Linked DNA regions of Homo sapiens: regions 2, 3, 4, 5 and 6 are each reported to be linked to region 1. The links are microRNA targets in miRTarBase. Many come from high-throughput screens and were not tested one by one. Region 1 holds a microRNA gene; each other region holds the end of a gene's coding sequence.

Region 1 (5,075 bases):
AAGGAGAAACCAAATAAGAACTTGATAAAATGGGATGGGATGAACTAGATGAGGGTAGAATTAAAACAGGACACTGTGAATTATGATTGTGTGATCCATCACCCATTTGCTTTGCCAGGAAGCTGAAAAGTTTTTACTGAGCCTCGCTGAAGGTAGGAGGTTGGATGGGGCAACTTTTTTTTTTTAATCCTTTGAGCCCAACCTGAAATGAAAACAAATTATAATCAAAGAAGTTCCACACCCACATGTTTTCATTTTTTTACTTTTTGTTCCACATATATATTTCCATATATGGATTCCACTCCCACATTTTCACTTGGGAGCCAAGAATTTTAATGATGGAAGTTATTAGAAATGAAACAGAGAAAAAGGTTATATACAGAATTGAAAATAATTTCTGTTTAAGTCACCTGTAACTATTCACTGCCTGACATAGATTTCTTGTGTTTAAGTTAAGAACAGTTCCCTGTCCTTTGGGTATGTCATTTCGTGTGAGCATAGACGTAGTGCAACCATTATTCAGGCTTAGAGAGCTTCTGATAATTGTTCACAGCACAAACAAACAAAAACACAAAAGACCTAACACATCTCTGGAGGCTAAAAGGTAACATGAAGTACTTAAGGATGGGCCAATAAAGTACACATTATAGAACCAGAAAACCCCATATCATTGTTTTCAAGCATATTGGTCTGAAATATATACATATATAATTATTTTGTTTCTTTTCTTTTTCTTTCCTTCTTTCTTTCTTTCTTTCTTTCTTTCTTTCTCTTTCTTTCTTTTTCTTTCTTTCTTTCTTTTGTCTCGCTCTCTCTCTTTCTTTCTTTCTTTTTTTTTTTTTTTAGACAGAGTCTTGCTCTGTCACCCAGGCTGGAGTGCAGTGGCGCAATCTTGGCTCACTGCAACCTTCGCCTCCCGGATTCAAGTGATTCTCCTGCCTCAGACTCCTGAGTAGCTGGGATTACAGGCATGCGCCATCACACCTGGCTCATTTTTGTGTTTTTAGTAGAGACAAAGTTTCTCCTTGTTGGCGAGGCTGGTCTTGAACTCCTGACCTCAGGTGATCCACCCACCTCGGCCTCCCAAAGTGCTGGGATTATAGGCGTGAGCCACCATGCCCAGCCAATTTTGTTTCTTTTAATATTGAATAGAGTATGACTCAAGCCCCTTCGTATTTATTTATTTTTATAATTTCAACTTTCATTTTTAATTTAGGGGGTATATATGCAGGTTTGTTACATGGGTCTATTGTGTGACACCGAAGTTTGGGGTGTGAATGATCCCACCACCCAGATAGTGAGCATAGTACCCAACTGGTAGTTTTTCAGTCAAACTACCAATTTTGGTTATGATTTGTTTTCATTTCAGGTTGGGCTCAAAGGATTAAATAAATAACAATTTTAAAAAATTTTAAAAATTTAAAAAAAGTTGTCCAATTCAACCTCCTACCTTCAGCGAGACTCAGTTAAAGCTCTTCAGCTTCTTGGCATAGCAAATGGGGGATGGATCACACGATCACAATTCATAGCATCCTGTTTTAATTCTACACCCATCCAAAGAGTTTTTTCCTCTCTCTCCGCTCTAGTAGTCTCTGGTGTCTATTGTGTTCCTCTTTGTGTCCATGTGTACCCAGTGTTTAGCTCCCACTTACAAGTGAGGGCATGCAGTATTTGGTTTTCTGCTCCCATGTTAATTCCTTTAGAATAATGGCCTCCAGTCTCATCCATGTTGCTACAAAAGACATGACTTCATTCTTTTTTATGTTAAGCCTGTATATAATTGTGGAAAGTAAAAGCCCTCTATAATTCTCTATAATTGTGGAAAGTGAAAGGTCTTTACCATAAACATTTTTAAACAACTTTATCAAGATATAATTCACATAACATACAACTTTCCCATTTAAAGTATATAATTCAATGGTTTTGGTCTATAACATTATTATTTAAAAAAAGTCTTCTCAGATTGTTACATTTTAAAAAGTTTTTAAATTATGATTTAATTTGCTATTTTAATCATTGTTAAGTGCATGGTTCTGTGGCATTTGTCATATTCTCAATGTCGTACTACCATCACCACTATTTTCAAAACATTTCATTACCCCAGAAAGAGTATTTTAAGAGAAACTATCCCTCTTGATTCAGAAAATGTAAGCCACAATTTTAAAAAATTAAAGTTCCCAAACTAGAAAGAAATATTTTAATTTTTTTTCTGTGAAGGATAGTAACTCTTATAGGGAAAAGGAAAGAGGAGTTTGCTGTGACCACTAGGAGGTCACAGTGGAATGTCTGCATACTTCCACCAATGTGACTACACGGCTGCCCTTTCCACCAATGTCACTTACACAGCTGCTCATCCTTTCAGATTCAGCACAAGCATGTTCATTACGTTGTATTGTGCTCATTAAAGTATGTGTGCCCTAGCATTTATAATCATGTGTTCATTCACATGATCATAAGTGGACACATGACCATAAATGCTAAAGCACACTTACTTCTACAACATACTGAGCTCACCTCACAGGTATAAACAAAAACATGCACACAAATGTGTATTGAGAATAGACAACTAAACACAGAGGAAGCTTATGTGTACTGAGAGACAAGTGAAGAAGGAATATGCCAACTAGAAAGAAGAATGTTTGGAACCTAGAGGGAAAGTAAATTTTATGGTTTTAAATGTATCCACAGGTTTTTTATATTCCTCCCCTCAAGAAGTAGACTCCAATTCTCTTCCTTTTAAATATGGGCTGGTCTTACAAACTTCTTTCTCAAGATTAAAATGCAGAGTAAATAAGATTGCTGACTTCTGAGACTAAGTTTGGAAATGTCACTCAACTTCTGCTGAGGTTCTGGTTCATATTTAGAACCTGGCCTCCATGCTGTGAGGAAATCCAGTCTACATGCAAAGACTATGCAGGAATGTTCTGGCCAAAGGCTCCCCATAAAGTTCTAGCTGACAGCCAGTCATGACCCATCACCAGACATGTGAATGATGATGCTATCAAACCAACTCCAGCCACAGGATCTGACTAAAACCTCATGAGAGGCACTGAGCAACAATCACCTAGCTTATCCTTCTCAAGTCCCAGAATCATGAGAGATGACAATAATAAATGATGGTCACTTTTATACCATTAAATTTGGGGTAATTTGTTATGCAGCAGAAGGTAACCAGGACAGTAAATGAAGTGATAACATCAGGATAGGTAAAGTGAGTTAGATGGGGAGTCAGCAGCAAAGGTTAGGAATAAGGGTAACTTCCCCATATTTTCTTTTCTTAAAATAGAAAGAAGAAAGGAAGGTTTTTAGATTATTGTTTATTTATCTTGCTTTTTTAGTATAATTGATTATCAAAGATTTCAAATGAAAATGAACTTAAAAGTCTGTATAAATAGTACAGATCATGAAGATTTTAAGTTTCTCTATTTCTCATTTGTTGATTAGGGCATATTTCCTAGCTTTGGAATGAAATTTTTGTTTGGCATTTTAATTAATAAACACATCTCATAAACACATAACTTGTGTCATAACTAACTTTAATTATTTTGTTCATTAAACAATATTTGTTAGCATTTATTAAGTGCTGGGTATTCTGCTAGGGATATAATAGCTAATAAGATATACTCCTCACAGTCAAGGAATTTATAAGAAAATCTTATGGGAGAGACAAACAAGTAAACCAGCAATTATAGTAGCAAGACCTACGTATGGATAGAAGTACAAAATCTATGGCACCATATAGGAACATCTCAACAGCTCTTGAGAAAATGTTGAGGAGGTGTCAGGGAAGGATCATTAGAGGGACTCATGGCTATGCTGACACCTCAAGGGAAGAAACTGAGTTCAACCAGTGAAGCTCTAGAGGTAGTTGAGGAGGAAGACTAACAGTATGGGCAGGAGCCATAGACTGTGCAGAAACCTGGAAGCAAGGATACATGTAACAAATTCTGGGAACTGAAAGTGTCTCATTATGGCTGGAGAAGAGATCACAAGGCAGAGGCTAAAGAGATACAATACAAGGGGGTACCTCTGTGAGGTTAATAATTTTGAACTTTATCCTGAGAGCGTTGGGAAGCCATTGAATGCTTTAACCAAGAGAGAGACATGATGAAATTTGACTGTGATGTAAAAAACATATTCGAAAGAGGCAAGACTAGATTCTGGCAGACCAATCAGAACACTCTTGCAGCAATTCAGGTGACAGAAGACAAAGGTAGTAGCTTGAAGTTGTGTAGGAAGAATCACCCTATGAGGAGGGAACAGAGCTATTGTTCACTCACAGCCCAGAGAGCCTCAGCTCTGCATGAAAGCCTTTTGGACATGGATAAAACAAATTGCAAGTTGGTAATCTAATTTCAGGAGGGACAGATCCTGGATGTGTATTTCAGAGTGCTAAAGTCTATCCAGAAACTGATACCCATGTGGCATTCTGGATCGAATGCCATATGTGTTGTAAAAGCAGACAGGTGCTTTGATAAGCTAGCAACAGATTTTAACCACAAAAATTCTTTTTTAATGAGAAATCTGTGCCACACCAGTAACTTATACGAAAACAAAGATTGGTGTGTATGTATCTGCGTGTCAAATGAATATTCATGCCTATGATTCACTTTAACATTTTCACAATCTGACCTTGAATGAAGAGGTCAGGGCACCACTCATTAAAAAATGATAAGGCTTTCCATATGAGCTTACATGGTATTGCAAATTGGAATTTTTTCAGCCTCTTTTGAGAATGATTCCCTAAATTAGGATAGTGTATGAGGTGTTAACAATGTCCGTGTGCTTTGAATGAAATCAACACCTATAATATACAGTAACATTTTTAAAGCATTACATATGTGTAAATATGTTCATGTGTATGTGACGTATATGCATTAAATAATTATGTGGAGGATACATATGTATATTTGTAGGTGTGTAAATGTGGGGAATGAGCAAACTGAGCCACTCAAGACCTGAGTCTGCTTTAGTGCATTCACATAAATTCAATGAGAAATTAAAGTAATTCTTTGCCAAAAGAGTGGCTGATATGATAGGACAACTGCTTTCTTTTGCTACTACGAGAACAAATT
Region 2 (5,075 bases), not on the chromosome of region 1:
AGCACTTGGGAAGCCAAGGAGGGAGGATCACTTGAGCCCAGCCAGGCATTTGAGACTAGCTTGGGTAACATGGCAAGACTCCATCTCTACAAAAAATTACAAAATTAGCCAGGTGCCATAATGCATGCCTCCCAGCTACTGGGGAGGCTGAGGCGGGAGGATCCCTTGGGCCCAGGAATTTCAGGCAGTAGTGAGCCGAGATCATGCCACTGCACTCCATCCTGGGTGACAGAGCAAGACTCTGTCTCAAAAAAAAAAAAAGTAAAGAAAACATATATATATATATATAGAGAGAGAGAGAGAGAGAGAGAGAGAGAGAGAGAGAGAAAGAGAGAGAGAGAGAAACCTGGAAACCTGGCCAGGCACAGTGGCTCACACCTGTAATTCCAGCACTTTGGGAGGCCAAGGTGGGCAGATCACCTGAGGTCAGGAGTTCGAGACCAGCCTGGCCAACATGGTGAAACCCCGCCTCTACTAAAAATACAAAAATTAGCTGGACGTGGTGGTACATGTCTGCAATCCCAGCTACTCAGGAGGCTGAGGCAGGAGAATGGCTTGAACCTGGGAAGTGGAGGTTGCAGTGAGCCGAGATCGCGCCATTGCACTCCCACCTGGGCGACAGAGCAAGACTCCGTCTCAAAAAAAACATAAAAACTCAGTTGAAGCTGGTTGAGGTGGTCCATGCCTGTAGTCGCAGCTACCCAGGAGGCTGAGGCAGAAGGATCACTTGAGCCCAGGAATTTAAGACCAGCATAGCAAGACTCTTGTCTCTAAAAACAAAATTTTTTGATTAACAAAAGAAAAACTCAGTTGAAAGTGGTTGCCTTTAGAGAAGGAGAAATGGGGGTGGGATCAGGAGAATGCTGCCTTTCATAGAACTGACTTTTTAAACTCGTAACTTCTACGAATTGAGGTAAACTCCTTACTTTTTTAAAAAAATAAGTAAAAAAAAGTAAAGTTGTAAAAGAAAAGCTCCATCAACTATCCATCCCCCAAAAACTTTTTTATGCCTATTTAATCTACATTCTTCAAAATTTTTTTAACCTGCCTAGCTTTAATGGTATTATTTACATTAACCAACTGAAAAACTGTTTTCAGAACCCCATTTTTAAAAGCATTTAAAAGAATTCTGCACCAACATGTGGAGACACATATAATCCAACCCCTGTATACTTCATTAGGGCTTATTTGTTTAAACAGTTTCATTGGCATTCATACTTGGAACAACAGAGGGTTATTATAAAAAAAAAAAAACATAGTTGTGTTTATCATGCCAGGACTGGGTAACTTTATTCAAGACTTTGACAAAATGATCCCCAAAGTAATATAAATGTAGACACTTTAAAAAGTCCAGATGTGAAATTTCAAGAAAACTTTGAATTCAGTCCAAAGTCAGTATTAAGTCAAAAGTTGAACCAATTCTACAAATCATAAATACTATTTTCCTTCTTAAGTTCATATATTTTCTGAGATAGATTACCAACTTAGTTTTCTTTGATATTGGTATTTGGAATAATTTTAACATGATTTAACATCTTTAAGTTCTAAATCTATACTTATCCTGAATATCTTATTATAGTTAAAAATATAAATCCAGAACTGACAACTCTTCCTTACAGAAGAATTCCAATAATAAATGTAGAAGGATTGAGAGAAATAGAAAATCACCATTAGAACACCACAGTAGTAACTGCCACAAGCAAGATCTGCCAATGGATAGTAAAATGAGCAAAAGTTTAAGCAGAAACGGGACATTTGCATAGTCTCCGGGTATCTCCAGCAAATATTCAATAATTACAAGGAAAACACAGTAAGTTTACAGTAGCGAATCCTAGCAGACACCACCTTAGCATAGTGATCAAGGTTAACAACACCAGAAATACATTACAACATCAGGTATCCCCTGTTATGATACACTGTCACAGACTGGAAGACAGGACGTAGGCATGATAGCTAAATGCAAGGCTGGGTCTTGGAACAGTAAAAGGACATTAGTGAAAAGACTAAAATCTCTACTTTTTAAACTTTCTACTTTAGTTAGTATTATATCAAGGTTAATTTCTTAATTTTGACAAATGTTCTATTGTTACGTAAGATGTTAACATAAGGGCAAGGTGGGTGCAGAGTATACAAGAACTCTACTACTTTTACAACTCTTCTGTAAGTCTAAAATTATCTCAAAAGCTTAAAAAATAACTGTTAGAAAACAAACATGTATGTGCATAACATGTGTACATATATATAAATCAAGACTTCATGGAAATTGGCATCTTGGGCACTCAGTCAGTAAAAGAATAGTGTTCTCTTCTGAATTATTCATTGTCTTACTGGTAGCTTAGCTTTAAGGTCCTCCCCCTTCTAGACTTTTAATTTCAAGTATAAATTTCTAATTTTCATAGAAAAGCCTTTTTTAAACATTCCTATATTAGGCCAAAAATAAAATCCTAGAATAAAATTATCACCATATTATCTTATAAAATCACTCATCCCAATCATAAGACCCAGCCAGTATTTTTACTACATTTCCTCTCCTCATCTGTTTGTATTGGTTTGGTTTGGTTTATGAGTGGGGACAGCTAATAGATTTAGTATTTACTCATAGGCCTGACAGTCTAGGGGAAAAAAAATTATCACTTGGGTATCTTATGAAGAAACAGCTATTTTTCCAAGAACCAATATTGTGTACTCACCTCAGACATAAAAAGTTATTTACCTAAGTCTCTTCTATCTAACAGCATAGAGTTACCCAAACAAGGCCAATAAAGACCCTTTCAATATCCTTTTCTTAAATTTGGCTCTAAAATGACTGTTAATAATGGTAATAAATGTCTTTTTATTAAACAGACAATTTTATCTTATGCAATTTAGGGAAATAAACATAAAATCTACCTTTAAATGAAGAAAATAATAATTTCCCACTCTAACTATGGCTGATTCATTCCCTGAGCATGAATCCCATTTTACCCTCATTGTTTTTAACTATAAACTGAGCTGAAATCTGCTCACAGGTGAAACTAGTATTTTAGATGGAGAATGATATTACCAAGTAATCATATTTATTACTTTTTGTAGTAATTATTTCTACTCACTGTGGCATTTAATGTTTCATCTGTAACTCTCTATCACAATGCCCTCTATAGAAGCAGCAATAGTGAAAACATAACTACACTTTGGGGAAAAAAAAAAAAAACAGGAAAAAACAGATAACTTTTAAGTGGATCTTTATCCAAATACAATAAAAAAGCAAAAAAGAAAAGTGTCCGTAAACATTTTCATTTTATGTCAATGCCATTTCCAAATTTACCTTCCACTACTACCATGAACAGCAGAAGTGGTAAAAAAAAAAAAAAAAAAAAAAGAAGAAAAAAACTCTAACCTAATGATCTATAGAAAAAGGGAGACAATTTACTCACTACACATTGCAGTATATTCAAGTGGTGAAAAGATATAAATTTTTTCAGAACTGCCATACTATCTGGCTGTCAATATAGTCTCTTGAATAATTATATTAAACATATTACTACAAAATGTACCAAGAAGTAGAGAATAATACTATATTTGTAAACTGCAAATAACAAAACAAAACAGAAGTCCAAGAAGGCTAAAGTCTAAGCTATAATTACACATGAAGTATATGTTGAAAGCAGTCACAATGTACAAAAATGTGACAAGATATCCAGATGTTTAAAAAAACACATCCTGTTTGTCTCAGATTATATCCAGTTTCATCTGGTAGGTTTCTGATAAGCCTGTTGTGTGAAGTGTGTTTCCCTCCTGCTGGTAAGAAGCAGCTTGTAGATATCCATAAATTTTTTAAGGAGTGAGTCTACTTGGCAATATTGGTAACTCCATAGTTTCCTATTACATTCATTCGTCTGAAAACTGAAAACAACTCATGACTAAAATATTCTTCCATTCCTTTGCCAGTTTTTCAAGTATAAAATCAAAGGAAAGCTGGAATGTATTGCTTCTTGTCATCAACAGGCATTTCAAAAAGAGGGTAATTAACCAAATCAAGTGTTCTTTGGTCAAGTTAGTAACAGGCTTCCACTTTGTTCTAAATCCTTTCATAATCCTTTTTTTTCTAATTTTTCCAGTATGGCCTGAATCTTACAAACAGCCTCTTTTCTGGCCTGCCGTACAGAGTCCTGGCCCCCAGTTTCAACTGAATCCAGTTCCAAAAGTTCCTTGGTTAGCATTTCTTCCAGAAGCCAGTATGCTTTGTCTGTCTTTTTTCCTACAAATTCTTCTACTTCTTGTTCAAGATACTGGACCTTCTCCAGCACATGTATGATTTTTTTAATACTCGGAGGAGTACTTTCATCTGAAGGTACACATTCTTCAGGAAGACTGCTACTTTGATCTTGATTGTTGGGATGGTCACTGGTGGCATTACCATACAGCTGAGGCTCAGCACTATACTGGACTTGGGAATCCAAAAGATCTGAATCATCATTGTTCACTGTCCCCGAGGATTCGTACTGATGGACACTGCAAGGAAAGTTGTGCCGGTTCATGCTTTGATCTGATTGGCTATAGGGGTATGAAGAATCCTTGGAGTGGGAGAGCAAAAAGAGGAAAAGAGCTGTTTTAATGGGAATGCATCAACATCAAATTTGTTAGCCCACATCTTTCACTTGACCAGAAAGGTACATGAAAAGATTCCCTAACAATAAAATTGGACCCCTCTCCTTAATCATTTGCAAAAAAACACAGTCCTAAGAAGATAAAAGGGAGTGCCCTGTCAGACAAAAGGCACAGAATTTTTGAGTTATAATGGCTGGAACCTGCCCTGTGGCAGGTCCATCACCATGAGCACCTCATAGTCCATCCTGTGACCTAATTAATAAGAATTAGTTTTTCCCCTAAAAGGTTAAAAACCTCAAGCAAGGTCTTGAAAAGGAACACAGCCACAAGTGATAATGTTCAAGTCTGTGGTTTAAATACAAGCTCATGCTACAGATATTTCACATTGGTTTTGTCTTCTGTTCATAGATTATTTGAAGTAGTAAAATGCATCTTTGCATTTAACGTTTAGAAGAATTACAACAAACAGAAAATGTGTATCTTTCTGT
Region 3 (5,061 bases), not on the chromosome of region 1:
TTCCTGCCAGGACGCTGATTCTTGTACCTAATGGAAAAAACAGGTTGGGACCAAATCTTTGTTCCATTGCTTCCCTCCACCCCCACTGCTACTGTAAAGATACCTGAGTTGACTGTGACCCCCCCAGATTTCATTTGCACCCCAAGGTGGAGAGCCTGAGCTTGACTCTACATCTGGCCTATAAGCCACACATTTGATTTGCCTAGTGCAATTGGCATTTGGATGCCATCTGAAGGGACAGAACTTCCCTCACCCCAATTCAGCCCAAGCCCCACCACTGCCCGCTCCAGTGATCAGGCCCCACTCCAGGTCACTGTAAACACCTGTGGCCCCTGCCTAGCCCTGAAGAACTCAGCACTGGGGCCTCTGGATAAGGACCAGCAGAGGAGAGAGCTTGTCATGTGGCTATTCAGGTGTATTTAAAAAACTGCTTTAAATGTGAGTCAAAAGAATCTTACTTTTCCACAAACTCACGCTTTTTATTTTTAATGGACAAACTTTGCTTTTTATCATTTATGTTTTTCATTCTATGAAACAACCTTTATTTCATGGAAACAAGACTCCATCCACCATGAAGCCAGGAAGTGCACAAAATCATGGCTCTCCCCTTATTTTCTCACTCCTGGGTGCAGCTGGTTACTGGAAACGTCACCTACCTTTGTGATGTTAACATTAACCTGCCAGGGTCTGGGCAGGCTGGCTCTGGCTTTCAGCTGTAACAATAATTATATGTGGCTAATTCTTTAACATACACACGGGCATACACTCACCACTTTGAGTGAAATGGTGAAGACCACCATTCAAACGGGCACAATTAAATCTGAAAATGGCTAAGAAGGTCCTATTCAGGTTCTCAAAACTCTTATGGTTCACTGGAGGCCCAGGAGGCCGTTTGTTTCTAGAAAAGCCAGCAACTAGATGAGGCCAGGCAGAGCAAGAGTCCTTTGTAAAGTTCTCTGTCCTTGTGAACGGAGGGAAAAGTTCTCAAAGCGGGTGTCTTCCGCGATGTTTAAATAAAATCTGTCAGTTTCACTATACTAACACAGAACAATAAAGTTATCCCTGGTTCATACTACATAGAGAAACAAAACTATTAAAGCTATATAGAAATTATTATCTATTTTTAAAAACTATATAGAAAAACAAAATCTTTCAAATAGTATCAATACTTGGGTTAAAGTGAAAGGACTCAGTACTTGATCTGAGTCTCAGGTATATTCAAAAAAGATACATTTATGAGCATTCATGTACACAGAACAAATACACACACACACCCCTACACATTCATGTATATATATGTATATACATATATATAAACGTGTACATATGTATACACACTTTGTTATCAAACATGTGCCTGCCATATCCTCATTATGATCAGTGCACTCATATGTGTGTGGGTATTTGTTTGTGTGTGTGTGTAATCAGGGCTTGAACCAAAGATCATTTACAGAAGACAGATCTGTTCCCTTTGTTTAGATGAGAGCAGAGAGGTATTCCTTCAGATTGCCTAAGAGTACAATGATAAGCTTGCTTCTGGCTCACCCTAATTATAGCTGAGATTTTGTTTTAATTAAGAGCAGAAACTATTGACCTTATTGAGCCATAATTTTGAGCCAACGATTAAATATGGATCAATAGAACAGCTATTCGGATTGGTAAGACCCAAACCTCCTCTTTTTGGTTCAGGAGGAAGGAATACACATGCAATTATATAGATTACATAAAAACGACCTCAGTATCCACTTGTCTTAGCTTTTCTAAACCAGACAAAAGTTGGGATTAAATAGAATTTCTCTTTATGCATGTATAAACACACAAAGTGGATACATCTGCATTTTTTCTGTGTCATAAAAGTAACATTCGTACAATACTTTTTGGAATAGTAACTTTAAAATACGACCCTTTTAAAACTGCAGTATCAAATTATTTGCTTCTTCAAAACATAGCCATCACAAATTAACAAAACCTCCCAAGATAACATACAAACACAAAAAAGAAAAAGGAAAGATTAAAAACCGATTCAATACGGCAGAATTAACTCATCGTGCTTTCTGATATGGAGGCAGCTTCCTGGGCCCGGCATCCTCTCCACTCCTTCCCCTCCATCTGTGTGTTTACCCCTCAGAAGCCAGAGCCTCCTGAGATGCTAACACGACTCCCAGATATAATCCCAGTCTCCTCTTTCTTATTACACTGTTTGTTTATTTCCCTCCAGTAATCCACTGAACCAGTCACTGAGAGGTTAATGAAAAAACAACTTTATTCACAGAGGCTGAGAGTTTGGGATAGCAAAATATCCAGTGACAGCCCTTTCGCTACATTTTCAGTGAATCACAGTGAGCCTGGATCTCAGCAATGGCTCCTCCTGGAAGTTCTTCCAATCAAGGCTGGCCTGAAGTTTCCCAGAGTCTTCCCACTGGCCTGGGTAGAACCCAGTCGTGGAAGCCTGGTTCAGCATGGATAGGAGAATGAATTTTCCAAAAGTCACCTCTATGCCTGTGAATTATCCAATTACTCTGCCGGCCTGAAATGTCCTTTCCAACACATTGACCAACAGGCCCTCTGGATTCAAAGTTTGTCATCATTTTTAGACAAGTCCTGGAAACTATTTTAAAAGCGATCTTAAAGACCTCCCTCCCAACCTATTTCCAATAGTGCGTGACTACTTGTGTCTTTATCACATGACATAAAATAAAAGTGACTTAGAGGTTCAGAAAATTGCATTTCAGGGCCTCGAAGATTACCCAGCTAGAGATGGCATAGAGGTCGGTTGCATTTCCCCGGAAGCTGCAAGCTGAACTTGGTTGTGAACATCTCAATGTTCTTAATTAGATTTTCGTTGCAGACCTCTTCTCCCCTCCCCAGACTGCCAGTCACCTCTTTAAGGTTTTGATTTAGTATCAGCCTCCAGGCCTGCCTGGCAGGGCTGGGAGGGAAGAGCGGGCGGCTGCAGGGGGTGCGGGGGCCAGGAGTGTCTGGGAGATTCCTGCCATCAAACCTCAGGTCCTCTGGGGCCCAGAGAGGCCCCTTCCAGCGGACACCAGCACGTCCCCTTATTCTTCCCCCGCATTCATCCCTCTCTCTCTCTGCATCTGCTTTTGGTTGTTTCACCCAACTTTTTAAATTAAATGTAGTCTTTCATTATCTGTTTCTGAAAAATATAGCGACCACCAAGCCTGGATCTTGAAAAAACATGGAAATCAAAACTCTGACATTGTCCAAGGCATATCCCCTTCCCCTCACACCCTTCCTCATGGTATCCCTTGAAATATTTTGATCCCTTAAAAACAAAAGCAAAAGGATAGGACGTCTGCTGTTGTGGCTTACATAGCTGCATGTGTATTGGCTAATGAGCTATCGTAATGCAAGAAGATGTTATATAGAGTGCACTTTCTTAATAAAAATTGTTAATACAAGCGTTTTCAAAGGTCAATGCTTAGAGTCAAGTATTTATGCAAAGAATGAAACATGTTCTTTTTACTACCCAGAAAGAAATTAAGAGAAAAAGTCTCTGTTTAAAATAAAAGTGTTATTGCTCTGGGTGGTTATCAGCTTCTATAGCTGAACATTGGTCATAAATCCTCATCGGGCCCTACATCTCTCAGAAAACCTGAAAACCCGGGGTCACCCCCGGCACCTCCACAACTTCAAGTCAGGAACAAACCCAGCTGTGACCACCCACCACCCAGATGGGCTCAAAACCAAGGCCTGAGCCACACGGCAACAGCGAAGCAGGCGACGGTCATACGGGGGTCCCCGGTCGAAAGGACCTCAACTGCACCTGTAAGGCCTGCCTTGGGTGGTCTGCGGGCCCTTGCATGCCCGGGACTCGCAGGACCTGCGGTGGGCGGCTGAAGACCACACTCCATTAGACAGGTCAAACGTCAAGGAATCTCCCGCGGTGGAGGTCCCTGCAGGGCCCACGTGCGGTGCCCACGACCCCGCGGGGATCTTTTAAGTCTCCGTAGCTGCTCCCAGTTGCTGGGAAAAGTTTGCTTCGGAGAAGGCAGGCGAGCGCGCCCACCTGCGCGCAATGGTTGGTAACACTTCCCTGAACCCACAGGCCGACCCAGGCAAAGATCATTTTAAAATCCTCCGCCGGTGGGAGCTGTGGCCTTTCGCTCAGCGGAGGCTCAGGCTGGGCCGGGAGAAGAACCGTGCCATTGTTTGCTTTACTGGAAGTGGAGTACCGTGTCGGGAACCTGCAGGGGGAAATAAGAGAGGAAGGGGATCCCGAGCTGGTAAAAGCCGCCCTGGACATGCGGGTCGAGCATCAGGGAAGCGTTGAAAGGCGGACGGAGGCTGGAGGAGGCGGCCAGGAGCGAGGCACCCAGACGGCCGCCGGGCCCAGGCTTGGCACCCCCTAGGAGTTCGTCCCCTGAAGGCGGCTTCTGGCCCTGCTTTCCCGCCAGGATGCTGTCTATGCTGAAGCTCTTGGACTTGTCGGAGCTCTTCGGAGAGCTGCGGGAGGCGGGGCGCAGAGGGGACCCCGGGCCGTCCCCTGTGCGCGCTGCCTGGCCGACCGCCACGGCCGCTGCGCCCTGGGCAGCGTCACCAGCGTCCTCGTTCGGGGACGCGGTCCCCGGCCAGTGGAGGGGCGCCGGCGGAGAGGGGCCGTCCAGGAGGGGCGAGGGGCCCGCGGGCGCTGCCTGCAGGCGGGAGATTGCGGGGCCCGAGCCCCCTGCCCCGCTCCCCGCCTCCGGCTGCGCCTCCGCGCTGCGCTGGTGCGTCTCGGCGCGGGGCCTCTTGGCCTCCGGGGCCCCGGGGCCCGGCTTGGGCTTCCTCTTCCGGCGCCGGTAGTTGCCGTTCTCAAACATGTCCAGGCAGCGGGGGTCCAGCGTCCAGTAGCTGCCCTTGCCCGGCCGCCCTTTCTCGCGGGGCACCTTGACGAAGCAGTCGTTGAGCGAGAGGTTGTGGCGGATGCTGTTCTGCCAGCCCTGCCGGTTGTCGTGGTAGAAGGGGAAGCGGTCCATGATGAACTGGTAGATGCCGTTGAGCGTGACCCTCTGCTCGGGCGCGTCCTGGATCGCCATGGCGATGAGCGCGATGTAGCTGTAG
Region 4 (5,075 bases), not on the chromosome of region 1:
CCCTGAAGGCCGATGCTGGAGACATCTGGTGGGCAGGAGGTGGCAGAGGAAACCCACAATGAGTGTCACTGTGGTCATTTGCCACTCCATCTGACCCATCTTCCTTGATGAGAATTTAATGGTTTGGGCCCAGGCTTGGTGGCTCATGCCTGTAATCCCAGCACTTTGGGAAGCCAAGGTGGGCAGATCGCCTGAGGTCAGGAGTTCAAGACCAGCCTGGCCAACATGGTGAAACCCCGTCTCTACTAAAAATACAAAAAATTAGCCGGGTGTGGTGCCACATACCTGTAATCCCAGCTACTCGGGAGGCTGAGGCAGGAGAATCTCTTGAACCCGGGAGGTGGAGGTTGCAGTGAGCCTAGATTGTGCCACTGCCCTCCAGCCTGGGTGACGAGAGTGAGACTCTTGTCTCCAAAAAAAAAAAAAAGAATTTAATGATTTGGGAGGCCAAGGCAGACAGATCACCTGAGGTCAGGAGTTCGAGACCAGCCTGGCCAACATGGTGAAACCCCATCTCTACTAAAAATACAAAAATTAGCTGGGCATGGTGGTTTGTGCCTGTAATCCCAGCTACTGGGGAGGCCAAGGCCTGGGATTGGCCTCCAGACATCTGCCCACCAGATGTCTCCAGCATCGGCCTTCAGGGGCTCCTGGAAGGGCGGTCTGGGCTCTTACCCTCCCTGAACCTGGGAGGTGGAGGTTGCAGGGAGCCAAGATCACACTGCTGCACTCCAGCCTGGGCGATAGAGTGAAACCCTGTTCCCCCCTCCCCCCAAAAAAAATATTAATACTTTGGAGTTATGGTGTTTGCAGGGTATGTGGCTTTAAGGGTGAAGTTTTCTAGAGACCTGGCTGGGGAATAGAAATGTTCAGGGACCCAGAAATTTCTTGGAAGTAATGCATTTCCTAATGACACCTCTCTGCTTCCCTTCTTGATCTGTTCTCTCATTTATTTGCAGAATCCAGAAAGGTTTGATCTGGGGGACCACCCATACTGAGGAGTTGAAAGAACAAGGAAGAAGTACCAAGTCAACCAAGTTCTCTCTTGTCACTGAATAAGACTTTGGACTCTCTTAGGGCCCCTGTTGATAGAGATCTGGCCCTGAGGTAAACGATAGGTGAGGTCTTGGGTGGGAGGGAGTTGGGGAAGGGAGGTGGATCTCTATGCCCTTTTCTCTACCAGGCCTGCCGTTTCACCGCCTTCTCTACTCACCTTCTCTTCGGAGGCAGGAGAGTTGGTAAGAGGATTGGGAAAATTCTAGAACATTCATTCCCCTTTATGCATGAGCAGGGTCACTGTTACACTCATCCATGTTCAGCTTTTCTCCCCCACGCCTTGCTCCCTCCTCGGAATGGTCAGCGACCTCTGCAGGCCCTGGCATTTGGAAGAGCTGGGTGGCCCTGCCATATTCTTCCTCCCGCCTTCCTCTCGTGTAACCAGCGGGGTAAGTTAAGCCAGGACCTTCGCTGCAAACCTGGTTTTATTGCTCCTTCAGTCTCCAGCTTCCATCCTCCAGTTATCTAGCCAGGAGGTCCCAAGAGTTAGTTTTAGGGAAAAAGAATGTCTGCCTAGACCTCAAAGTCTTTGAGTTTTAGAGTCTGTTAGTAAAAATGGCACTTTGATTCCCATTTGGGATGAGCCCTCTCAGGAATCCTGTGGGGAAGGGGGGTGATTATAGGGAAGGACGCAGGCATTCCTAGGTCCCCAGCTCTAATTCCATCCATCTACCCAACTGTCACCATCTTTGCACCAAACTGTCACCATCTTTGCAGCAGAAGGTCACTACTCACATTATAGTAAGAGGGGAAAAAAATCTTTTAAAACTTGGCTGTTGGCCGGGCACGGTGGCTCACGCCTGTAATCCCAGCACTTTGGGAGGCTGAGGCAGGTCGATCACGAGGTCAGGCGTTTAAGACCAGCTTGACCAACATGGTGAAACCCCATCTCTACAAAAATTAGCTGGGCGTGGTGGCGCGCGCCTGTAATCCCAGCTACTCAGGAGGCTGAGGCAGATGAATTGCTTGAATCCAGGAGGCAGAGGTTGCAATGAGCCGAGATTGTGCCACGGCACTCCAGCCTGGGCAGCAGAGTGAGACTCTCTCTCAAAAAAACAAAACTTGGCTGTTAATGTCTGCCCTCTGAATTCAGACACACTATATTAGACCAGACCACCATGTGTCATTGTGTGTGTGTGTGTGTGTGTTTGCGTGCGCATGTGTAGAGGAGAGAGCAGGGTCCCTGAGATAATGGTTTCCAAACTGTATCGTAGCCGTCCACAAAGATGTAATCCAAATCTATTTTTCTCACGTGTTTAAAAAACTGAAAAGTGACTACTCAGATATGTTGGAAGTCACATCGAAGACTATCAGAATATTACCTTGTGTTCATAGGTTAACTTGTTTTTGTACACGTCTTAGTTATTTCAGGCATCTCTTTGCTTAAAATTGAGTTTCTTGTAAATGTGACTGATGAGCGAGGTTAGAAGTGGAAGAAATTCCTGTGCATGTTCTATAATCTGACACCCTGAAAGCAAGTTTCCTTTCGTCATTCACATGCTCTTGTTCTGCCGTGACTGTTCAGGTGTATGGTAGTAAGTAAATGTATTAACATGGTGAACAGTAGTAATATTCTATCATAGAGTATTAGCCCTTGCAAGTTTTCAGGGCGTCTTTTCCGACTTCAGTTTTTGTGATAAAGAATGTGAACAGTTGTTAGATGTTCTCAGTGATTCAACTTTAAAACAAATTTCTCGTGATGATTCATTTCAAAATCCTGAGTGAGTCTGACTGAAAAATACGAGAGAAAAGAGAGTGGTTTCCGTTTGCAGCTACACAGCTGTGTGCATCGACGTTCTCCTGGGGTGTGTGCCAAGCGAAACCCAGGGGTGAATTGGATTCTTGAAGAGACCAAAGCCTGTAACTGTCCAGCTTCTAATTTCAAAACGGGTCCATTAGGGCTTCGTTGTGTTAACAAGTTGACACCATGACTAGTAAATGTAAACGTGTATGTATAAAATAAAGTTTAGCAAATTAAGTGTCCTGTTAAGTCTCTTGTAGGTGAGGATTGCATGGACTATTAAATTTGAGGAAAGGGTTCCCCTTTCCTCAAACAGTGCCCCCAGCCAGATGTGACTGGTTATCAGATACGGGTTCAAGCTTTGAGAATTGTTAATGATCCATGAGAGAAGAAGCCGTTTGTCCTCTTTGCGAATGGCTTTCCACTGATGTGGAAGGATGTCCCACAGATCTTGGGGTTTCTAGAATAGGTATCTGGTGACGCAAATTACCTCAAAGTACCAGTTTATTTTTTTATAAACAGCTGGAAAATGAAAACCTTTCCCTCCCTTCCTATTCCCTCACACAGAAGCCAAGGTCTTTTTTTTTTTTTTTTTTTGAGATGGAGTTTCGCTCTGTCACCCAGGTGGGAGTGCAGTGGCACAGTCTCAGCCCACTGCAGCCTCTACCTCCTGGGCTCAAGTGATCTGCCCACCTCGGCCTCCCAAAGCGTTGGGATTACAGGTGTAAGCCACCATGCCAAGCCAGAAGCTGAGGTCTTTTAGCTAAAAATATAGTTTTCTTCTGGCCCTCCCCTGCCCCTCCCCAGGAACTCCTGAACCAGGGTGGCCACTACATCAGTCACTTGGAATCTGTTCAAGGTACCATTTCGTGGCTCTACCTGCTGATTCAGGATCTCTTCGGGGTTGTACATAGTTATCTGCGTCTTAAACAGTTTCTCCTGAGAATTTTTTTTTTTTTTTTTTGAGACGGAGTCTCGCTCTGTCTCCTAGGCTGGAGTGCAGTATCATGATCTCAGCTCACTGCAACCTCTGCCTCCCGGGTTCAAGCGATTCTCCTGCCTCAGCCTCCCAAGTAGCTGGGACTACAGGGGTGCGCCACCACGCCCAGCTAATATTTTTGTATTTTTTTTAGTAGAGATGGAGTTTCACCATGTTGGCCAGGATGGCCTCGATCTCTGATCTCTTGACCTCGTGATCCGCCCACCTCAGCCTCCCAAAGTGCTGGGATGACAGGCGTGAGCCACCACGCCCAGCCAAGAATTCTATTAATAATACAGGTTGGAGAGCTTCAGGTGGAATAATTCAGACTTGGGGAAACGGAAGTGTCCTTAGGGGTCCAGGTTGAGGTTTTGTGAAAGTGAATGGAGATTATGAGGAAAGATGCGAAAGAGACCAAAAGGGAAGCTGGGATTTGAGGACGCGGAGCTCGTTAGGAACTGCCGTGTACTCATAGAAGCATCTGGATGAAGCTCTATTTATTGGGTGCCCCCACACCCCCACAATGGGAAAAGCCCTATTTGACCAAGATGTTTAAGTACCTCCCACAATAATAGTCACTCCTACTGGTTACACCCAGGCTGTCAGTAAAGTATGAAAGGCCTACGTGCCCTAAAAATGGGGGGAATCCAAGGTTGGGGCACATGAAAGCTCTCTTCAAAGAAACCTCATCGCCCCGGGTGGAGGTGTTCTGTTCAGGGGTGCGTCTGGGGAGGCGCTGGCCCGGAGTGTTTGCAGGAAGATGGAGAGCTGTGGATGCCACCAGCAGGGCTCGAGGGCAAAGTGTCCTGGTTGCCCATGCTGCCATTCAAGCAAGGTTCGTTGAGAATCTGCTGTACGACAGCCAGGAGCAAGACAGAGTCCTGGCTTCCTGGAGCCTGACGTTTGAGTGAGGACAGACCTTATATAGACACAGGTGGAGGGGTGGGGAGCTCTGCCGTGAAAAATATAACAGGAAGATAGGCAGGCAAGGTGAGTGTGCAGAAACGGCTGGCTGTCGCTTACAATGGTTGGGGGAGCCTCTCTGGGAACTGGATGTCTGAACAGACCTGAAGGGGGTGAGGGGTGAGACAAGCAGTTGGCCAAGAACGGCCTCCTGGGCAGAGGGAACAGTCATCGTGGAGGGAGGCTCTAATCTGTTTCAGAAAGTGAGTAAGGCTGGGCGCAGTGGCTCACACCTGTAATCCCAGCACTTTGGGAGGCCAAGGCGGGCAGATCACCTGAGGTCAGGAGTTCAAGACCAGCCTGGCCAACATGGTGAAACCCCATCTCTACTAAAAA
Region 5 (5,075 bases), not on the chromosome of region 1:
TGTAGGGACATGGATGAAGCTGGAAACCATCATTCTCAGCAAACTATTGCAAGGACCAAAAACCAAACACCACATATTCTCACTCATAGGTGGGAATTGAACAATAAGAACACATGGACACACGAAGGGGAACATCACATACCGGGGCCTGCTGTGGGGTGGGTGGAGAGGGGAGGGATAGCATTAGGAGATATACCTAATGCTGGATGACAGGTTGGTGGGTGCAGCACACCAGCATGGCACATGTGTGCATGTGTGACAGACATGTGCATTGTGGACATGTACCCTAGAACTTGAAGTATAATAATAATAAAATTTAAAAAAAAATTCTTAGATGTAAAGATGCCTCACCTGACTCCACTCAGGTTGGATCAGCATCTTGTTCCCTTTTCTCCCCTGAGACTTTCAAATAGGGCAGAGTAAGATGGAGGAGGTAACTCTTTGTCTCTGCTAATACCTAATCATATAATCTTATTTCAAAAATTGGCCAGTACAGTTGGATTGACTACAAAAAAAAATTAGGCCTTGTCCATTTATCCAGAGGTTTCCTTCAAAACTTTTAAAAAATTTTATCACCTAAAATGGATTTTAAATTATCAGAATTTAGATGTAGCAATTAAGTAAATCTTAAAGGAGGTGTAGAATTCCTTTAAGAAGTTATTGTCTGCTTCCCATTGCAGCAATGTCTGCAATACTACTTTTTTTAATGAGCCCAGAAACAATTCTCTGCAACTGTAAAAATTATGCCAGAATGCAAGTTTTTGGTTAGTGCCATAGTTTCGTTTTGTTATTGAAAATGGGATAAGTCATGATTTATTCCCTCCCTTCTATGGAAGGGTAAAAAATGTTAATGGTAAGAAAGTTATTACATTTTCTATTTCAAGATTGATTTAATAAGAAATTTACCTACCAGATTTATGATGTTTTATTTTTAGCTACAAGAAATAAAAGCTTAAAAATAACAGAAATAAAAGCCTTAGTTTTATATATGTAATTTTTATAATATATACACAAACTTGGAAATAACTTCTGTCAGTATCCCTTATTATTGTCACATGATTTTGAACTTCTGGACCAATATAATTCAGCTGAAAGAACCAAGAAAATTAATATGCACCTGTACTCTCAAATTAGTCTCTTTAGAAGGAAGTGAAGAGAGACTCTTGAAAGATAAATCACAGTGTTACTACATCTTATTGAAAATTTCTATTTATCTCTATAGATGTTCCACATAAAGAAATCTTAAATAATTAAACATAATATAATTGATAAAACTGACATGTTAGTCTGGAGATGTTTGTCACCTATAGACAAAATAGACTCCTAAATATTAATATAAAAGTTATTGTTGTGTTTAGATGAACATAACCATAACCAAATAATTTTATTTGATATTTGGTGGTTCTAGTTACTTAAAATAATAAAAAGCTACATAAGCAAGAACCCTCTTAGAAAGTTGTAAGCATTAGTATAGACTTATATTTATACATGTTTTCTGTACATAAGTTCATTTAATTAATTGATGTAGGTAACTTTATGCTTCACTAAGCATTAATTATACATCATTGTACCTGTAATCCCAGCACTTTGGGGAGGCCGAGGTGGGCAGATCATGAGGTCAGGACTATCAAGAGGCCAGGATTGAGACCATCCTGACCAACATGGTGAAACCCCGTCTCTACTAAAAATACAAAAATTAGCTGGCGTGGTGGCATGAGTCTGTAATCCCAGCTACTTGGGAGGCTGAGGCAGGAGAATCCCTTAAACCAGGGAGTTGGAGGTTGCAGTGAGCCGAGATCATGCCACTGCACTCCAGCCTGGTGACAGAGCAAGACTCTGTCTCAAAAAAAAAAAAAAAATCATTTTGTATGGCCAGTAAAGACAAGTGTAATTGTGTAATTTAATATTTTCTTTTTAATTTTAGCATGGCTTTAAATTTTGAAATTAATGATTCCTGACTTGCATAATATATATTTAGTAGCTATCCTACTTTCACGTTAATATGCTAATCAAATCAAACCAGGAGTATAAGATAAACTATTACATTTGAGTTTAATGTAGCCTACAAGCAACATTTAGCCTATACAACTTATGCATTGACGTGGCTTATTGTTGACCATCATTATTATCTTTCCCTTCACTTATTAGGAACATATGTTTACTAGTTCCTGTTTGGCAGCTAAAATTTTTCATGTGCCCTAAGAACTTGGTATACAGTGCACAATACTTAACAATAGATTAGAATAAACTAGAGTAATATTTTTAGCTTTAGGCTGTGTAAACAGGGTCATATGCCATTTGGATGAGAGTTGAACATACTAAAAAATTTCATTGTTTCATTTAACCCAGAAATACTTTAAAGTATAAATTAGTTCAATTTTTGTAGCATTTCATTTTATGCTATTTAAACATTATGCATTCAGTGGAAAGAATGCTTAATCAGATAATTGGCTTTATAATAAAACACTATACTGATGTATACATATAATGTTTTAGTTGATGGATGGGTTTTTTAATATATTATTTGTTATATATATGTGTGTACTATTTTCCCATCAAATTAAAGCAATCTGCTTATATGGTAGCTAGTTCAATTTTGGTAAGTTTCCACTTTGTATTTGTGCACCAAAATAAATCATAGTTTGCTTTAAGAAAAAAATAGTTTATAAGTACACTTTAAACATGTTTAAATGCAAACCATGAAGTTTCTATGAACCCTTTTGTTACTACTAAAGCCATATGTTTAGCCTTTAGCTATGCCTTTTTTGCCACATTTCTGAATGTAAGATAAACGTGTATTTTGCAGAACTTTATTAAAATGATTACCTGAGAATAAATTTTGTAAATTTTCTTAAGTTAAATTTTCTGTGATTTATGTCCAGCAGTCAGTATTTAGGTTGAAATTAAATGCCATTTCAACACAACAAATTCCCAAATTAAGTTACCTCTATCAAAAGGCCAGTTTTTTTAATAAACATCAGAAGTTTCCTTATAAAAGGGCACATCTATTCACTGGATTGGTTACCTTTAGGAAGGGAAGCTCAAAGAGTGTTTGACTGAGTAATAAGAATATTTCTGACAATGGGACTTGGCATGGATAACTGTTAAACCATTGATCTCCTTCAGTTCTCTATCATTTCTAAGTGTTTGCTCCCTGTGGATCTATACAGTGGGATAGCAGAGAGTCATAGAAGTATTTTTAAGCACTTGAATTTCATAGTGTATGCTTCATGGACAGAATAAAATGTATTCCTCCAGCTGTTCAAGAATGAGGGCAAGGGGGAGATAAAAAGAGAAATGAAGGCAAGACAGACTTAGATCTCAATAAATGTTGCAAACTTAGTGTACTTTTACCTCTAAATCCTTTTCCTTACCTCCCACATTTAATTCCATCAAAAAGTCCTTATATTTTCTCCTTGCTTCTAACCCATCATATCCCAGCCACCAAAGGTTTAGGATTCCACATAATGTCATGAATTGACATACACATACACACAAATCCAAGCTGAGCCTTTGGTGCTGTGAAAGAGAATTTAAACATTTTAAAATGTAAAACTAAACATATTATCTGAGGTATGGCTAGAAATAAAAACAATAAAAAAGTGCAGTGAATAGGAAAAATGTAAAAGATTTCCATATTACAAATGAGCTATAAACACATTTATAATTCATAAACAGCATAAAATGATTGCTTATGTCATATTAATTAAAATAATAAAAGTAAGAAAATATGCTCAATGCAGAGGTACTTTTAAGAAAACAAACAAAAAAAAACAAAAGTTAACAAAATATTTTATCTGCATCAAAATATTCTTTGGAAACCAAAAATAAAAATGTATCATGTATGTTCTTTCAGGTTAATCTGTAAAAGTCAGAAAAATACGTAGTCCCTGTTATTTAACTTTCCGAAAATACAAAGTTCTAAATATCCCTCAAGCATAAAGCAAAAGGCTTTATGTCTTGCTGAACTGAAGGAGTGTGCTCCCTGTATTAGTACAAAGAATTCCAGTTTCCTTCCTATCAAAAAACATTTTGTTTCAGTCACATTGAAACAAATGACGTGACTTCAATACAGTGTAAGTATAGCTGAAGCTGTGTCCAGTAATTTTTCTTCAGAACTCTGAAGACACCTATAGAAACTCCTGAGGGGAAAGAATGGTTTCTCACAAGGCCAAGAGGAATATTATCCAAAGCGAAACTTGAGTCTGTATTTCACTGAGTTGGTATTTTTCCGAGGTGCAGAAAGGGGAATCTTTGGCTTGATAGGGCTAGGTGGCTTTTTCTTTTCAGGAACAGTAACCGTGAAAGAAAGTTCTGGCTGCTCCGACTGCTTGAATCTTGGCAGAAAATGGGTAGAGATATGCTGGGGTTTAACCCGGGGGCTGCACCCTCGTTTGGCTTTTCCTCTTTTATTCAGGGCCACATACCACTCCCGCCCTGTTTTTTCAGTTCTATGTATTGCTGAGGCATAGGTATTATAGCTATTTTCTTGAAAACGCTCCCTGAACTTGCAGTCATCTGTGAACTTGGCCTAAGGAGGAGAAAAAAAGAGGAAATTTAAGTTGTGGCGATCTTTTCAGCATGTAATAAAACATAAGGTATTGTAGAAAAAAAAACAATAATTTTGTTGATCTCTGTTCCTCCTACTCAATTCCTTTTTATAAAGACATGTTTGCTTATTTTAAAGTTGCTTTAAAATTACTATTTTTCTTTCTATATTTCTACTTCATTTATCTTTGTAACACATTTCTGTTCCCTACTTACTTGGTGACATAATATCGATGACTATAAAAGTAACCAGAACTCTTGATACATTTAAACCCTGTTACTATTGTTTAAATACTTTGAAATGTATAGTTACAAATCTTTTTACATACTGTTTTTCCTCCTAACTCACTAAGAAAATAAATGGAACTATATTACTAAGAAATGATTGCCTGGTAAAATATAAATTCCTGTTCACAGAAATGAGGTCAAAATTATTCCTTTGAAACAAGCTTGCATTTTTTCAATGTTATCAGTGTGATTGAGGCTGCTGAGAGAGAAGTAGCATATGGCCCCCATTAATATTGCAC
Region 6 (5,067 bases), not on the chromosome of region 1:
TTGCGGGAGGCAGTTCCCCATGTAGGCTTTTCCCTGCTGCAACTGAGAGCCTGGCTCTGCTCCAGTGCACACAGACCACGGGTCTCCAGGAAATGAAAACCCTGGGACCCCAAAATAGAAAGAGAGAGACATATGATGTGTTTGGTGCCCTGTGGCCCATCCCCAGGGTCGAAGGCCCAGCCTTCAGGCATGCAGCCTCCTCCTTCCAGAGCCCTGTGTCCTTCCTTCCAAGGCCCAGATATTACGGCCTTCTCCAGGGAGACTTTCCGGCCCCCCCAGAGCTCTTGCTCTAACTGGCCCCTCTGCTGTTTTGGCACTTGGTACAGGTGACAGTGGAGGCGCATCTTAGGCAGAAGTGAAGCTGTCAAGTCAGCACAAAAGGCAAAATCTCATGTAGCCTAAATTATCCTTGAAAGTACAGGGGATAGAAGAAGTGGTTATGCGACACCATGAGCAAACAATCTGACAAATTCAGAATGTGGGGCTTCAAAAAGACAGCAGGCCTAGGGCCTCAAAAACAATGTCATTTAAAAACTCAAAGTGAGCTGAGGGAAGACCTTTCAGCATTCAAAGAGGTTTTAAAAACATAGTTAGAAAATGCAATGTGTGCACCGTGACTGGATGCTGATTCCAAAACCAGACACATAAGTTACCTGGGAGACAATTGGGGGGATTTGAATACAGATTAGATAGCAGACATCGCTGGGAAATGACTTCTCGTCTTGGCTGTGATACTGGGCCAATGTGTAGGACAATGCCCTAACTCTTAGGAGATGCAGGCTGAAGCTTTCAGGGATCAAGTTTCATGATGTTTGCAATGTACTTTTAAATTAGGACAGAGAAAACATATACATACACAGAGAGAGAAAAAGAATGTGGCAAAATGTTAATAATTTTAGATCTAGATGCTGGGGAGTGGGCATTCATAATTAAATGTTTGGTAAAACATTGTTGTATTTGCTTTTCCCACTAACAAGCCCATGGGCACAGCTCTGTGCTGGGACCACCAACCTCTGCAGGTCAGCGCAGCAGCTCTCCTCTGCTGGGAACAGATGGCTTCCTTAGCTGGGCCCAGAAGCACTGACTGCTCATCAGGGGGGCTCAGAAAAGGCCCATTTTTAAACTTCAGACTCATCCTCCAAGCAGCAGGATGCTCCACCACAGAAGGCTCTGGAACTCTGAATGACTGAGGCAGCTGCAGGTGACACTCGCACCTGCACCCACCCTGGGGCAAAGGCTCATGGAGGGGACCACAGAATAGACGATGGAGCCACCTGAACAATTTCAGTTATTTCTCTCTCCTTTTTTTGGCCAAATGCTTAGAGTGAATTAGTGGACATTGAAGACTGGCCTCGCTGGCCCACTCATCTGTGGCTTCTCTTCTCGGGAGGGGGTGTCCTTGTACCCATTAGCTAACAGCCCCCCAGGCAGCTTATCTGCCTCTCCTTCTACCCCCCATACCTGCAAGTCCCGGCAGTGTCTGGACCTAGTGGGTCTTCAAGAAAGGTCTGTTAGTGGGAGGAGAAGTGGCAGCAGTGACCTAGGCAGACAGACTTGGAACATGTGGCAGGTCCAGTCTCCAGGCTTGCAGAAGGGTCCAGGCAAAAATCCAGAAGATCTCTGCTGTCACAGGATTTCCAACCGCCTGCTCCTTCCCATAGCCAGAGGCAGAGAGAAGTGGAGCTCCTGCCCTAGGCCAGCCCACCTCTCCTGCCTTCCATGCTCTGCGAGAGAGGCCTCCAGGCCTAGAGGGTAGATTTCCGAACCTGGGAGCTGTAAGATCCTCACCCATCCCGCAGCCCAGTCCCCTCACTGACGGATGGGACTCTGGAAGTCACTGCCCCTCTCTATAAGCCCCTGGCTCCATGGCGTGGGCATGTCTTCATGAGCACACAAGCAGACATGCCACCCTGTCCTCAGACCCTTTGCTGCTCATCCTGCTGGCCCAACGATGCCCAAGTTCCCAGGCTTGCAGGCCCCATTGAGAGGCATGATGGGGACACTGCTGTGTACACAGTGAAACCACCTGCAGCTGGTCCCACTGAGTGTCCAACTTTCTTCATCCCAGCAGAGAACTGGAGAAAAGGGAATCAGCTCAGAACAGACCCAGGCCCCCACAGGCTGGGGAAGGACCCCTCGAGGGAGAACACGACAGGGATGCAAACGCAGACCTCGGAATGAGAAGGCTCAAAGGCACCCTGGCTGGGAAGGAGTGGTTTGTCCCCATATCCTGGAATGACCATGCTGTGACGGAGGAAGGGACAGGAACCTGGCACAGAGTAGGGTCCCAAGGATGGGCTCAGAGGCAGTGTGGCATTGGAAGAGGAGCACGATGGGACTTGGAACCGGGAGCCTCGGGTTCAACGCTCAGCCCTGCTCCCAGCTGGCTCCATGACGTCGGCCAAGCAGGCCACCTCCCCTTTCTGGACCTGTTTCATACCCGTCAAAGGACCTTCCAGCCCCAAGATGCTAGAGTCTTCTGAACAAGACAAGCCTCTCCAGAAAGTATTTCCTGGGGTTCAGAGGGAAGCAGAATTTGGCAGTTGGAGGGGGCCAGGGAGAGGCACCCCAGCCTCAGTCACTTCACATTGTTAAATGGGGTGGGGTAGGAGCAGACCCCAACCAGAAATCAGCCCAGAGATCCCACTGTCTACAAGGGCCTGGAGACAGTTCTGTGGGCCTTGGTGGGCATCCCAGCTCTCAGGGCAGCTCCCAGCCTAGCACCATGTGAGGGAGAGTGGGTGGGGCAGCTTTTGACCCCAGCTCTCCTAGCCCAGCCCTGGCTGTTTCCTTTGGCCAAAATCCCCTCAGGGTCACTGGACTTCACGCAGCCCGATGTCCTGGAGAGAGCTGGTCTTCCCTGCGCATCTCACCACCTCTGTTCACCTGGGGTAGCCCCAGAGCAGCCACGGCACTGGGGAGGGCCCCTTCCTAAGGTCTGCTCAGCCCCAGGCCACTGAGGACACAGCCTCCCTCCCTGCCACCTCATCTCTAGCTCTAAGACAGGGTGACCCCTGAGACTGGGGCTTACCACCATTTTGTAGGACTGAATTAAAAACGAACCCAACCAAAAAAAATAGAATATATATATATACACATTATATATATATATATATATATATAACACAGTGCGACCCCAGCACCCAGGGTATAAACTCTGGCACCAAGAAAAAAAAAAACAAAATATTAAAATATTTTAGCTTCTTAGTATTTGGGAGGTTAAGGGGGTCTCTGAGAGCCCTCGGCCACAGGTGGCTAAGCAAAGCCGTGGCTGGCAGTCTCACCAGCTCGCCCATGTCTGCCTGGGCCTGAGGCTGGGAGGGTGTGGGGACCGTGTCTGTACATGGGAACATGTTACTGGCAGACCCCTGGCCTGCCTCAGTCTTTTACCACAGGAAACACCACACATCATATCCCAGGGGGAAGAAAGGGGTGCAGGTGGGGCCCGGAGAACTGGGCCCGATGGCAAGGCAGTGCCCCAAGGCCCTGCGGGAAGCCTTGAGGATGGAGTGGATACTGTAGGAACCAGAAATTCTTCCCCAGAACGGGAGGGTGAGATGTGAAGGTAGGAACCAGATGTGGAGGCTGGGAGTCCTCTTGAGGGGGCCACCCTCCCATCCAGCCTAGGACTGACTCCGGGGACCCAGCTGGCCCCTTGGAAGAGCCTGGCTCGAAACAGGGAAATGTCCAGTCTGTCTCCCCCGGCCAGGCTCTCCTCCCCTACAGCCTGGAGGACAGGGACATATGGCAGCGAATACTGAGGGGCGCCCTGCGGAAGCAGGGAGTGATGGGTGACGAGAGGGGACAGTCGGCGGAACACAGTGAGGGACAGAAAAGAGTCTCGTGGACTCCCTCCTACCAGGAAGCGGCCTCCCCAGGAGCAGCTGGGAACGGAATGGACCTCTGCTGGCGAGGGAGGTCCCTTAGGCCGCAGACCCAGCGGTGGGTGCTCCGAGGTGCTTGCAGATCCGCCTGGGTGCTCCCCCAGCCCCACCAGACCTCCACAGAGTATTGCTCATAAGTGCGCAGCTGCCCTGGTCCAGCTTCCCACTCTGCAGGTCTGGCTCAGCGTGTGGTGGGATGTCCCAGCTTTCACAAACGTTCAGTCTGGCTGTGGTGGCCACGGCTACCTGGTGTTCTGGAGGTCCTCTCGTAGCCAAGTGGGAAGTGTCTGGCCCATCTTATACAGCAGCTTGGAGAGCTCGATGTTGTGGTCCCGGTAATAGTCCTTCAGGAAGGCTCGGGACTGTAACGGGAAGGAAAGCTCAGACCTTGTGTACTGACTTAAGAGTGACCTCCTCTAAAAATCGCCATGCTCGGCCGGGCACGGTGGCTCATGCCTGTAATCCCAGCACTTTGGGAGGCCGAGGCATGTGGATCACCTGAGGTCAGGAGTTCAAGACCAGCCTGGCCAACATGGGAAAACCCTACTAAAAATACAAAAATTAGCGGGGTGAGGTGGTGGGCGCCAGTAATCCCAGCTACTCGGGAGTCTGAGGCAAGAGAATCTTTTGAACCCGGAAAGCGGAGGTTGCAGTGAGCCAAGATCACGCGATTGCACTCCAGCCTGGGTGACAAAAGCGAAACTCCGTCTCAAAAGAAAACAAAAAAACAAAAAACCCACCATGCTGCTGGCACCACCCCCCATACACCTCTTATTTATCCACAATCTCCTTCTAAATGGTAGCCTCCAATAGTGAACTCCCAGTTGGCAGGAGCATCAAAATATAGCTCACTAAGTCAAAATTCTTCTGATAGGGAGAGGAGAGAGAATTAATAATCAAAACCCAAGGCGGGCAGGGCCAGGGCCAGGCACGGTGGTTCACACCTATAATACCAGCACTATGGCAGGCTGAGGCGGGAAGATCGATTGAGCCCAGGGGGTCGAGGCTACTGTGAGCCATGATCATGCCACTGCACTCCAGCCTAGGCAACAGAACGAGACCCTGTCTCAAAAACAAAACAAAACAAAACAAAACAAAAACAGAAGCAAGTAGGAAAAGGAGGAAGTAACAAGACCCCCAGTCTGTGACCCTTTTTCTATATATTTTTAAAATTTCTTTTTTC

Evidence for each region. Region 1 holds the annotated microRNA hsa-miR-4643 (GACACAUGACCAUAAAUGCUAA, at 2,460-2,481, shown strand). A microRNA usually pairs through its seed, bases 2 to 8, with sites in the 3' UTR of a target mRNA and lowers its output. Matches are read on the target gene's strand: a 7mer-m8 pairs with bases 2 to 8, a 7mer-A1 pairs with bases 2 to 7 and ends in A, and an 8mer does both.
Region 2: the mRNA of BAG4 is a reported target of hsa-miR-4643. Seed matches in the 3' UTR shown: 8mer at 3,621-3,628 and 7mer-A1 at 3,414-3,420.
Region 3: miRTarBase lists FOXL1 as a target of hsa-miR-4643. Seed matches in the 3' UTR shown: 8mer at 1,700-1,707 and 7mer-A1 at 1,278-1,284.
Region 4: miRTarBase lists PNMA8A as a target of hsa-miR-4643. Seed matches in the 3' UTR shown: 7mer-m8 at 2,174-2,180 and 8mer at 2,214-2,221.
Region 5: miRTarBase lists FGF5 as a target of hsa-miR-4643. Seed matches in the 3' UTR shown: 7mer-A1 at 3,484-3,490 and 7mer-m8 at 110-116.
Region 6: the mRNA of NDST1 is a reported target of hsa-miR-4643. Seed matches in the 3' UTR shown: 7mer-A1 at 3,093-3,099.

Annotation. Positions count from the first base shown.
Region 1 is chr6:91,519,250-91,524,324 of GRCh38, forward strand. It overlaps MIR4643 (microRNA 4643), which reads left to right and starts at 2,411; the gene lies at 2,411-2,488.
Region 2 is chr8:38,209,486-38,214,560 of GRCh38, reverse strand. It overlaps BAG4 (BAG cochaperone 4), which reads right to left. Exons shown (of 5, transcript NM_004874.4): 5 at 1,260-4,553. The coding sequence ends at 4,068. Among named protein-coding and RNA genes, the nearest start is that of DDHD2, 20 kb to the left of the region's middle. RefSeq lists a silencer at 3,556-3,850.
Region 3 is chr16:86,578,876-86,583,936 of GRCh38, reverse strand. FOXL1 (forkhead box L1) reads right to left here. Exons shown (of 1, transcript NM_005250.3): 1 at 459-5,061. The coding sequence ends at 4,176. Among named protein-coding and RNA genes, the nearest start is that of FOXL1, 2.9 kb to the right of the region's middle. RefSeq lists an enhancer at 3,907-4,528.
Region 4 is chr19:46,464,462-46,469,536 of GRCh38, reverse strand. It overlaps PNMA8A (PNMA family member 8A), which reads left to right. Exons shown (of 3, transcript NM_018215.4): 3 at 960-3,034. The coding sequence ends at 976. Among named protein-coding and RNA genes, the nearest start is that of PNMA8A, 4.6 kb to the left of the region's middle.
Region 5 is chr4:80,285,781-80,290,855 of GRCh38, reverse strand. FGF5 (fibroblast growth factor 5) reads right to left here. Exons shown (of 3, transcript NM_004464.4): 3 at 1-4,531. The coding sequence ends at 4,184. Among named protein-coding and RNA genes, the nearest start is that of FGF5, 22 kb to the right of the region's middle.
Region 6 is chr5:150,552,392-150,557,458 of GRCh38, reverse strand. It overlaps NDST1 (N-deacetylase and N-sulfotransferase 1), which reads right to left. Exons shown (of 15, transcript NM_001543.5): 15 at 1-4,246. The coding sequence ends at 4,127. Among named protein-coding and RNA genes, the nearest start is that of NDST1, 47 kb to the right of the region's middle. RefSeq lists an enhancer at 182-351.